3 linked regions of the Homo sapiens genome follow. The protein of the gene in region 1 purifies or fractionates together with the protein of each later gene. This does not show direct contact. Each region holds a gene or a part of one and is shown on either strand. Other genes may lie near its edges.

Evidence for each region.
Region 2: the proteins of ANO6 (region 1) and VIPR2 purify together in Homo sapiens (co-immunoprecipitation; one large-scale study listed by IntAct). This does not show direct contact.
Region 3: the proteins of ANO6 (region 1) and C19orf38 purify together in Homo sapiens (co-immunoprecipitation; one large-scale study listed by IntAct). This does not show direct contact.

Annotation. Positions count from the first base shown.
Region 1 is NC_000012.12:45,428,975-45,432,877, forward strand, and holds the end of ANO6 (anoctamin-6), read left to right. Parts: intron 1-130; coding exon 131-337; 3' UTR 338-3,375; downstream 3,376-3,903. UniProt on the Homo sapiens protein: Small-conductance calcium-activated nonselective cation (SCAN) channel which acts as a regulator of phospholipid scrambling in platelets and osteoblasts.
Region 2 is NC_000007.14:159,029,726-159,033,373, reverse strand, and holds part of VIPR2 (vasoactive intestinal polypeptide receptor 2 isoform 1 precursor), read left to right. Parts: intron 1-1,306; coding exon 1,307-1,436; intron 1,437-1,504; coding exon 1,505-1,546; exon of another isoform or gene 1,547-1,880; intron 1,881-2,584; coding exon 2,585-2,758; 3' UTR 2,759-3,648. UniProt on the Homo sapiens protein: G protein-coupled receptor activated by the neuropeptides vasoactive intestinal peptide (VIP) and pituitary adenylate cyclase-activating polypeptide (ADCYAP1/PACAP).
Region 3 is NC_000019.10:10,861,914-10,865,561, reverse strand, and holds part of C19orf38 (protein HIDE1 precursor), read right to left. Parts: intron 2,393-3,648; coding exon 2,355-2,392; intron 1-2,354.

The sequences.
Region 1 (3,903 bases):
GTTGGTTGTGTGTGTAAAATGTCCACTGCCTTGTCCAGATAAACTGCCATAATGACAAGCAAGAATGAAAGGAACTCGGTGTTCTCCTCCATTTCTTTGTGAGTGACATTTTTCTTCTTCTCTTCCCCAGCACGTCATCTACTCTGTGAAATTTTTCATTTCATATGCAATTCCCGATGTATCAAAACGCACAAAGAGCAAGATCCAGAGAGAAAAATACCTAACCCAAAAGCTTCTTCATGAGAATCACCTCAAAGATATGACGAAAAATATGGGGGTGATAGCTGAGCGGATGATAGAAGCAGTAGATAACAATTTACGGCCAAAATCAGAATAAGAGCTTTATGTTCTGAGAAGCACTTTAAGGAATTTAGCTTTGTCAAAATATATTAGGAATCACTAATGAGAATGTGTAAGTTAAATCACTTTGGCAAATATGAGTCTCAACTATTGCCATTTCCTCATGTATTATTTTTCAGTTTCAGCTAGCGATGCAGAAACTGGAAAATGTAAAACTTAGATCATGAAGGGCATAAAACTTATCACCCGGAAAACCTCAATGTTACCTTTTTCTGATAAATTGGAATTTTACAGAAAAAGTCCCTCAGTGTGCTTAAAAACCACCCCTTCTAAAGTAGAATGGATTCTTTTTTTTCTGTTTGATTATTTTCATTTCTGTCTATTCTCAGGCGCATGATCTCCTTTATTTTTAAGCCATGTTTCATTTCTTCACTTGGCTAGATCTGTTCCAGGGTCATCTTTTCCTTACAGTACCATCATTATAGATTTAATTTAATAGCTTTCATGTGATTAAAAATAGCTAACTAGACTCAAGGATTCACAATATTTAGGTGTATTTTCAATACCTCCAGAAAGGAAACCTCAGTTAATCAGAGGAAATAGTTTCAGTCTTCATTTGAGCATGTCTTTCCATCTCAAAAAAATACTCTTAGTAGGTTGGAGTGAAGATAGCAAGGTTTTGAAGCATATTTGTCCTAATCCACAGTGACACTTTTTATCTTCCAGGAGCACTCCTAGGAGGTTCCGTGCCTAATCAATGTTGACTGCTTTGCAGATCTCAAGGGAATAAAATGACAAAAGCAGGGAAAGTTACAGATTCAAACAGCATTTTAACTCATGTTGATCTGGATAATTAATCTTTTCTAAAGATGTGTAGTTTCTTGGAAAACAGTGATATCACATGATTAAAATTACATTTTTATCAACATAATTGTCTGGAAAAGATAAGCCCCTCAATTTTCTACCAGTTGACTTTTATTCATTAGATACAGAAGGTGCAGTATTACACATCACCAGCTGCCTTTGTGAATGGCTCACTACACAGCCATTGGGGTACAACTGTGTGCATGGGCAGAAACAGCAAGTGCCCTCATTGTGGTCATTGGGTGGGGAGTGCCTTTTGTCAAGGAGTCTGCAGGAATTGGCTTATTTCTGTATGCCAAAGTGATCAACACACCAAAGTCTCTGCCATAAAGAATGTGGCTTCCTTGCATCCTCCATCCTGTTACTCTGGGCCCAGTAATTTGATGTAACTGTCTGATTGTACTAGAGACAGGAGTATACCCAGCTTATTCATAATCAAGTAAAGAGACTCAGATTAGATTTGATTTTTTAGCCTCCTCTAGAGCCAATCAGGCAGTTAAGAGTAATAAAGGAAAAGGGTTTGGTCACAAACCCTACCATTATCTGGAGATTACTTCCTGCTGCACTCCTGTCTTGCCATGCACGTCTTGCCCCCTCACTTTTGCTCAGCCTAGCAGTCTACTTCACTTTATTGCCTTGTAAGTGTCAGGCCTCCTGGGCGCTCTGGAAAAGACAGGGAGCCAGGCCCTCTCACCCCTACTGGTAACAGGTCATTGCTGGGTGCACAAGAGGGAGGTGATTTGCATCATGGTCATGCTGCATGGGCTTCACTGGGATGCTGTTAAACACCAGAGGAGCCAACCTATCAGAATCCCAGCAGCAAAGGAAAACTCAGATTTTAGAGGCTTTTTACAATAAAGTAGCGTAACTCTAGGTCATGATTGATTTCAAATGCCTGCCATGAATGATTTGTAAGTAATTATGTAGGATCCATCAAAGCAGTATTGTAGGCTTTTGAATTGTCCCAGTGGATCCGGGACCCCATTTCACTGTCTCTCTTGATCGTGTTAATGATGCAATCAGAGTTCAAGACAGGCCCCATGAAGTCTGACTGCACTGGGATGGAGAAATGAATTTCTTCCCACTGAAGGAAACTCTTTCTCATTCGCAGCCAAGACGGGAGTGCCACTGTTCCTCTCTTCACTCCTGAGATACTGCTTCTGGAAGCGGGTGTCACTTCCTCTCTAGTACCTCTTCTCTTCTCTGAAGTGTGTGACTATCTCCTAGTGTTTAAATTTGGCAGTTACTCGCCATGTATGTCAGCATAGAAAAGGAAATGTTTTTACCTTATCTCCTGTATGTATGATAGAACTTAAAAGAAATGTGCATTTGTTTTCATAGCCCCAGCAGAGAAAATCCTCTTCATAGATTAAATGTGCTGCTGTGGACAGGAGGGGAAAAAAAACCCTCTACATATTGAAAGGCACCAAATGTAATATCTGACACTGTTAAGATGCCCAAAAGAGCAAAGTTGTAGTGGAGATGCAGGGTCATTTCCCCATGCCATCCACAGTGTTTGTTAGTGAGTCCACGGCTGACTTGCAGTGATAAAGAAAAGCATGGAGCTGTGTCTGCAGACAATGGTGGCTGCATCTGTAAGTGGCTTCAGAGGCAGCAGCCCTGGGGAAATTGATGGGTGTGGCAGTGGACCTGTGAAGAGGGAGAATCTAGCCTTCAGCCTGTCCAGTGTTAACCACTAGAGAAACTGAGCTTTATATCCTTTTTTAATGCCTGTGAATTTTAGCATATTGAAACATTAGAGCAAATACTCAGGGGATTTTTCATTAAACATCCCTCAGATAATTTAGCTATATATCATTAGAAAGGGAAAGCTATCATTTTTATTTTAAAACTAAACAAGGCCATCTTATAAACTGTCACCAAAGTCTTCCCTTTTTTATTGCATGTGTGCCTTGAATTTCATAAAACATTAATTCACAATGGGGGTCAGAATGTACTCTTGTTGAAACACTTCTTGTACCATTTTATGTTCATATTATGTTTGAGAGGGTAAAAATGTATGAGCAGCTTAACTGAAGTAGAACTATTCATGATGCTTTTCACACATTGTGGCATAAGATGTAAAGTTTGTAATTAATGTTAATTTCTGTGCATTTTAATATTCTTTTATAATTATTAATGTTAATTTCTGTGCATTTTAATATTCTTTTATAATTATGAGCATTTTAATAAATTCATTTTTACAAACAATAGTATGGTCTATTCTATATTGTCTTAACGTTTTTAAGGAAGAGAACATATATCTGCTATTTACTAGTGGCCAGTTGTGTATCACTTAGATAAATGTGTGCTTTTGTGTAGATTTTTCACAGCCTTCACTTCAGAGATTTGCTATGGATTTTTAAAAATTATATTCAGTGTATTAAGGTTACAGATCAGAAAAGCTAGTTATTAAACTCAGCCCAAATCCTATTCTTTTCATCAATCTAGCAAATTTTACCACTTTTTACCAGACTTTTGAATAATGTTTGATTTCACCTACTAGTTTAATGAAATGTGTTAAAATATCTGCAATAGCACTTATAAATGTAGCATATTCCATTCATTTCCTTTTTAAAATACTCGTTATATGACCAATAGTGACCGAGAGGACGTAACTGGCAAAACTAGAAACGTCTTTCTCTTGCTGCCTTCTCTCTATAGGACACCTTTCCCAGAACCATTTAGGTTGTGTTCCCTGTCTCCCCTTCATTACTGAGAGGCAATATGTAAATGGAC
Region 2 (3,648 bases), on another chromosome or scaffold:
TGTGCACAGAGCTGTACCATGGCAGGAACCCTGCCGCCCAGCCTAGGAGGGTGCCTGGCCTGCATTTCCCTTTTCTCCCACCTTAGAAAACAGGGATGGATTTGGGGAGGGGCGGTTAGACAGGAGCATGGCCAACAGCCCCAAAGCTGGGTGCAGATACCGGCCAGTGCCCTGAGGGAAGTCACTTTGCCACTCCATGCCTCAGCTTCCCCATCTGTAACATGGAAGTAATAATGTCACTAAGGTCAGGAGGATCAATGCAGTCTATATTTGCCGGATATTTGCTGCCTGGCACCAGAGTATTGCAAAAGAGTCTGGTAAACCAGAGAATCTAATTCTGCTGTGTAGTGTCTAAATCCAGGGAGTATCCCGTCTCTGCTTGCCCACACGAGGGATGGGATTCCATGTCAGACCCCGCATGGCAGCATGACCTTGTCCCTGCTCAGGGGAGTCCGGTGGTGCCTGTGTGGCAGAGACCCCCGAATAAGATCGTTCTTGGTTGCCTTTCAGGTTGAACTTGGATTTCCTGTGAATCTTGTTTAGTTTCTATGCTGACCTTTGCATTGGTTCTTTGGGAGTGTTTGTTAAATTGAACTTGGAGATGGATGCTTTTATTTGGAAACAAAATCTGTTCCCTTTCCAGGACAACAGAAAAGGCCGAGACACCCTTGAGGCCACACGAGGTCCTTTCTGTGTAACTCTGGTCACAGAAGTAGCAAAACCTCCCTGGATAGGGGCCAAGAGCTCAGCCGCAGATAGGCCTCTTTTCCAGCAAACTTCAGATGCGTTAATAGAGGGAATCAGGCAGGTCCTCTGCCGCTGACTGAGGGACCTGGCTCCCACGGAGCCCAGCTGTTACGAGCTGCAGGTCCGGGAGCAGGATCGGTTCTCATCATTTAAACCTGCGTGTGGCAGCGGTGGAGGCCAGCCTTCTTGTCCCATGCCTGCCTCAGGATGGGCCGGGCTCCCAGGCGGGGCCTGTGTAGGTTTGGGGTCACTCACAGGGAATCTTGCCCCTGCCAGCCATGAACCCCAGGACACAGCGTGTGTCCTTGTGAGGGAATTTGGGAGAAACGGACACTTCCGGAATGCACGTTCCCAGGCCCTGAGTGCTAGATATGCACAGGGGCCTCAGACATAAACGTAAAGAAACAGTGGTTTTTCTTGTTGGGCGGGGACTCCAGCAGTGGAGAGGAGGTGTGGAGCCCCTCCCACACCCAGCTGCCCCCTCCTGAGAAGGACCCAGCCAGGCTTGCAGAGGGTCCGAGGGTCCAGCAGCTGAGCTGGCTCATCTCCTTCTGTGCAGGAGGCTGGCCAAGTCCACGCTCCTGCTTATCCCGCTGTTCGGCGTCCACTACATGGTGTTTGCCGTGTTTCCCATCAGCATCTCCTCCAAATACCAGATACTGTTTGAGCTGTGCCTCGGGTCGTTCCAGGTAGGTGTGCGGAGGCGGCCGCCCTCCCCCGAGCGCGGGTCCTGCCTGACCATCTCTTCTCATTGCAGGGCCTGGTGGTGGCCGTCCTCTACTGTTTCCTGAACAGTGAGGTAAGTTCATGGCCGCCTTGGAACCAAGCACAGGTACTCACTTGCTTCCTGAGATGCTGCCCAGCCTGGTGCCGCAGCCCCCACACATGCCTGTCTTCCGCGGGCTCGAGTTACTGCCCGGGACCCCACAGTTCTGTGTCCCCATCAGAGAACCCACAACGACACAGGCAAACCCACTCTTCTGGGCCCAGCTTCCAAACCCCGCCGTCCTTCCGTCCACCCTAAGTAGCATCGACTGCCGTCCGTCTCGGAGCCCTCTCGGGAAAGCTCCCGGCCGGGTCTAGACAGAATCTGTTTTTCCCCATGGTCGGCGTCTCGCTCCTGACCATAGCTTGTGAGTCCCAGAAAGCCGGGCCTGGGTTGGGGGGTGGGGCTGCACAGCGTCCTGTGAGTCCCTGGGGAGGAAGCCCGGAGCCGAGCTCTGCCCTGCGTTCATTCCCAGCCAGGGAGGCTGTCTCCGGGCTGCTCCAACGGCCTGGCCCCGTCCCCTGACCCCTGACCCTCCCGCCCCACGCTGCGGTTGCTGGCGCTTTCTTTGCTTGACATGCAGCTTTCACCAGCACGGCTTCTGCAAAGCTGAGCCCGAGTAGTGCCACTTGTCCTCCTCCCTCCTCTGCCGTCCGGGCACCCCTCACTCATCCCCACCCCCTCCCAGGGCTAACATTCCCTGCCCGCTGGGAACAGGGAAGGAGACGGAGGCCCAGCACCGTCACAACCCCGGCTGCTAAGGAAAATCTTTTCAGAGAAATATTAACTATCTGAGACTGTGGGACTGCGCTTACCGCGGCAGTGGCGATCCCCGAACCACCCACGCACAGTCTTAGAGTCTGGCAGCGTCCCCCGCCCTCCTGTGGCCGTCCAGTTCCCGCTCCCTCCAGCCTCTGCCCCCAAGGCCGTTTCTGTTTCTGTCCATCTGCTGGCAACACAGATACGGGAGCAGGCGGGAGGGAGAGCTGGAGGCTCGCGGGCCGCGCTTCCCATAGCAGCCGCCCGCACCTGCCCAGGCTCACGGGCGTTCCCGCTGCCCTCACCTCCCAGGTGCAGTGCGAGCTGAAGCGAAAATGGCGAAGCCGGTGCCCGACCCCGTCCGCGAGCCGGGATTACAGGGTCTGCGGTTCCTCCTTCTCCCGCAACGGCTCGGAGGGCGCCCTGCAGTTCCACCGCGGCTCCCGCGCCCAGTCCTTCCTGCAAACGGAGACCTCGGTCATCTAGCCCCACCCCTGCCTGTCGGACGCGGCGGGAGGCCCACGGTTCGGGGCTTCTGCGGGGCTGAGACGCCGGCTTCCTCCTTCCAGATGCCCGAGCACCGTGTCGGGCAGGTCAGCGCGGTCCTGACTCCGTCAAGCTGGTTGTCCACTAAACCCCATACCTGGAATTGGAGTCGTGTTGTCATTGACTCGATTTAAACTCCAGCATTTAGATAATCTTGTGCAAAATGTGTTTCAGCCGTATAGTGGATCCACTTTTTTTTTTTTTTTTTTTTTTGAGACGGAGTCTCGCTCTGTCGCCCAGGCTGGACTGCAGTGGCCTGATCTCTGCTCCCTGCAAGCTCCGCCTCCCGGGTTCACGCCATTCTCCTGCCTCAGCCTCCCATAGCTGGGACTACAGGCGCCCGCCAACACGCCTGGCTAATTTTTTGTATTTTTAGTAGAGACAGGGTTTCACCATGTTAGCCAGGATGGTCTCGATCTCCTGACCTCGTGATGGGCCCGCCTCGGCCTCCCAAAGTGCTGGGATTAAGGCGTGAGCCACTGCGCCCGGCCCAAGAGAATAGGGGAGCCAAGGAGGAAATGTGGAAACGCAGTTGTGTGGCCCAGCACGAGCCTGGGCGACCACCGGGTGACATCCGTCCCACATCAGGGCGGCCTCCCAGGTCCCATAAGGGTAGCCCCCTCATCTGCAGGACAGAGGGAAGCCAGTCAGGGCCCCCCTGACGTTAGGACCAGGAGAAATCAACAGGAGGGCAGCCCGTCCTCTCTCTTGGGGCGCCCACCCGGCCCGGCTGAGCCCTGCCCCACCCAACTCCACAGGGCTGTTTTGCCTCCCCACGGAAGGCGGGCTGAGGAGACAACCAGATCAGGAGAGCAAGGTCATGAAGGAGG
Region 3 (3,648 bases), on another chromosome or scaffold:
CTCCCAGGCTCAAGCAATCTTCCCACCTCGGCCTCTTAAAGTGATGGGATTACAGGCATGAGCCACCACGCCTGGTCCTTAATTTAAGAAAAAAAAAGTAAAAAAACAAATAAAAGGCCGGGCATGGTGGCTCATGCCTGTAATCCCAGCACTTTGGGAGGCCAAGGCGGGCGGATCACCTGAGGTCGGTTGTTGGAGACCAGCCTGGCCAACATGATGAAAACCCGTCTCTACTAAAAATACAAAAATTAGCCGGGCGCGATGGCAGGCGCCTGTAATCCCAGCTACTCGGGAAGCTGAGGCAGGAGAATCGCTTGAATCCAGGAGGTGGAGGTTGCAGTGAGATCAAGCCACTGCACTCCAGCCTGGGTGACAGAGCAAGACTCCATCTCAAAAAACAAACAAAAATAAATAAAAACTACCTCAAAAAGTGGGGAGAGGGGGCATCACCAGGCTGGTGTTCTGTGCGGTGTGGATTCTCATGGAAACGTTTAGATTGAGCCCTGCCTGCCGGGTTTTTCTTATGGCCTCAGGATTTATTCTGGAAGCAGAGACCTCAGAGGGCTGCACAGGCCCGTGCCAAGCCCCCTTCCTTCCTACCATCTGTATCCCAGGCACTCCTAGTCTATCTCTAGAACTGACCTCTCTCCTGAACTGTAGACTCCCCTCTCCATCTGCTCCCAGGCGCCATGGGTTGAGGTGGCTGACTCCACACTCCTGACCCTCCAAGCCTCACCCTCCTTGGCCTCCCTCTTCTCCCTTGGCCCCCTCATCAAAAATCAGCTCTGTGTTTTCTCTCCCCTATATCTCCCCTAACCTGCATCTGATCACTTCTTCGAACTCCACTGCCAACATTTTGGACCAAACCACCCACCCTTTGGTGCACGCTTGGCCCAGCTCTTCAGTCTCCAGGCTCCTGCCTTCCACTGATCCCCGCTTTCCCCAAATCTGTCCTCCTGCAGAAGCCACCAGAGGGCGCCTGTGTGCACCTGAATCCGGTCCCCTCCCTCCTATACTAGGAACCCTTCCGGGATCCCAGCTCAATAGCAGTAAAATCAAAGTTCTTCATGGGGTCCCCTTCGACTCCTCACTCCACCCCAGCTTACTGGGCTGTGCCAAAAATGTGTCCTCAGCCTGGATCAATCATCCCCAATCTTCCCCACCTCCTGCTTGTCACCCATCTCAGACTTTCCTGATCTCCTGTCTAAAGCAGCTTCCGCAGCCAGCCAGCATGGTGGCTCACACCTGTAATCCCAGTGGATCACCTGAGGTCAGGAGTTTGAGACCAGCCTGGCCAGCATGGTGAAACCCCCGTCTCTACTAAAAATACAAAAATCAGCTGGGTGTGGTAGCATGTGCCTGTAATCCCAGCTGCCCGGGAGGCTGAGGCATGAGAATTGCTTGAACCCGGGAGTCGGAAGTTGTGTGAGCCGAGATCACACCACTGTGCTCCAGCCTGGGCGACAGAGCTAGACTCTGTCTTGAAAAAAAACAAATCCCTCCCTCTGCTTTTGGGGGATATTGTTCCCCATTGTCACACAGTGTCAGGGCTGGGATTTAAACCTGGGTCTATGGGACTCTCTGCACAGCTACATTTTGGGGTAGCCTTGGCATTTGTACTTTTTCATTTTTATCTGTTTGTTTGTTTTAGATGGAGTTTTGCTCTTGTGGCCCAGGCTGGAGTGCAATGCCTCAATCTTGGCTCACTGCTACCTCCACCTCCTGGGTCCAAGTGATTCTCCTGTCTCAGCCTCCCAAGTAGCTGAGATTACAAGCATGCACCACCACGCCCAGCTAATTTTTTGTATTTAGCAGAGATGAGGTTTCACCATATTGGTCAGGCTGGTCTCAAACTCCTGACCCACACCCGCCTCGGCCTTCCAAAGTGCTGGGATTACAGACGTGAGTCACCGCACCCAGCAACTTCATGCTTTTCTTTATACCCAGAGGGGACCGACCACAGCCTGTCACAGATTGTGACACAGATTGTCACAAGCCTCTATGAGAGGCCACCAGGTCACCCTGAATCCTCTGTCACCATTCTGAGGGGCTGTCATGACTGAGACCAAAGGCAGCACTGACCAGGCCAGGACATACCACCAAGGGGCCTGCCTGCCTGTGGCCACAAGACAGCCTGACGTCACCACCTTCAATTAACACACCCCCTGGGATTTTTTCACAGCCAACTCTCGGCTCACTACTGAGTCCCTGTTCAGTGATTCTGGGCTTTTCCTAGCCCCCCCGCAGCTTAGAGACAGCAGGTCAACTTAGCCTCGTGGTGCCCCTTGAGCCCGCCCCGTTCTCCCGGTAGGACGGTCAGCAGAAAACCGGTTCCAAGAAAAAGAACCACTCACCGCGGAGACGGTAAACAGGGAGTTATCGAAGGACATGTCTGAAACAGAAAGAGAAAGAAAACCCAGGATTGGGGGCCAGTTGTAACTTCCCTGCTCCCTGCCATCCCCGCACTGCCCCCCAGCCCACAGGGAAGCAATTGGGGTCCATCTCCCAGCATCCTCTATGGCGCCTTTCCAACCCATTCTGCACGGTGAACTGTTCACAGCTACAAAGTGAACCAAGTCCTTCTACACACAGTCTTCCTAGGGGTATCTCTCACTGCCCTCAGGAAAATGGGTGTCTTATCTCAGGCCTTCCAGAAGGAGCACCTGCCAGCTCCTCCTCCTCCCCAGGCTCTCCTCCAATTGCTCCATCACCCATTTTTTTTTTCTTGTTTTTGAGAAGGAGTCTCACTCTGTTGCCCAGGCTGGAGTGCAATGACAGGATCTCGGCTCAATGCAACTTCCGCCTCCTGGGTTCAAGTGATTGTCCTGCCTCAGCCTCCTAATAGCTGGGATTACAGGCATGCACCACTACACCTAGCTAATTTTCATATTCTTAGTAGAGATAGGGATTCACCATGTTGGCCAGGTTGGTCTTGAACTCCTTGCCCCAAGAGATCTGCCTGCCTCGGCCTCCCAAAATGCTGGGATTACAGGTGTGAGCCACCACACCCGGCCTCCATTACCCATTCTTGTAGGTCTCTGCTTAAACATCACTTCTAGCCAGGTGAGGTGGCTCACGGCTGTAATCCCAACGCTTTGGAAGGCCAAGGAGGGAGGATCACTTGAGCCCAGGAGTTCAAGACCAGCCTGGGCAACATAATTTTTTGTCTCTAGAAAAAAAAATTTAAAAAGTAGCTGAGTGTGGTGGTGTATGCCTGTGGTCCCAGCTACTCAGGAGGCTGAGAGGGGAGGATCACTTCAGCCTAGGAGGTCGAGGCTGCAGTGAGCTATGATTGCGCCACTGCGTTCCTGTCTGGGTGACAGAGCAAGACTCTGTCTCAAAAAAAAAAAAAAAAAAAAACAGGCTGGGCGCGGTGGCTCATGCCTGTAATCCCAGCACTTTAGGAGGCTGAGGCGGGCAGATCACGAGGTCAGGAGATCGAGACCATCCTGGCTAACATGGTGAAATCCCATCTCTACTAAAAAAATACAAAAAATTAGCCGGGTGTGGTGGCGGGCGCCTGTAGTCCCAGCTACTCAGGAGGCTGAGGCAGGAGAATGGCTTGAACCCAGGAGGCAGAGCTTGCAGTGAGCCCAGATCGCGTCACCGCACTCCAGCCTGGGCGACAGAGTGAGACTCCGCCTCAAA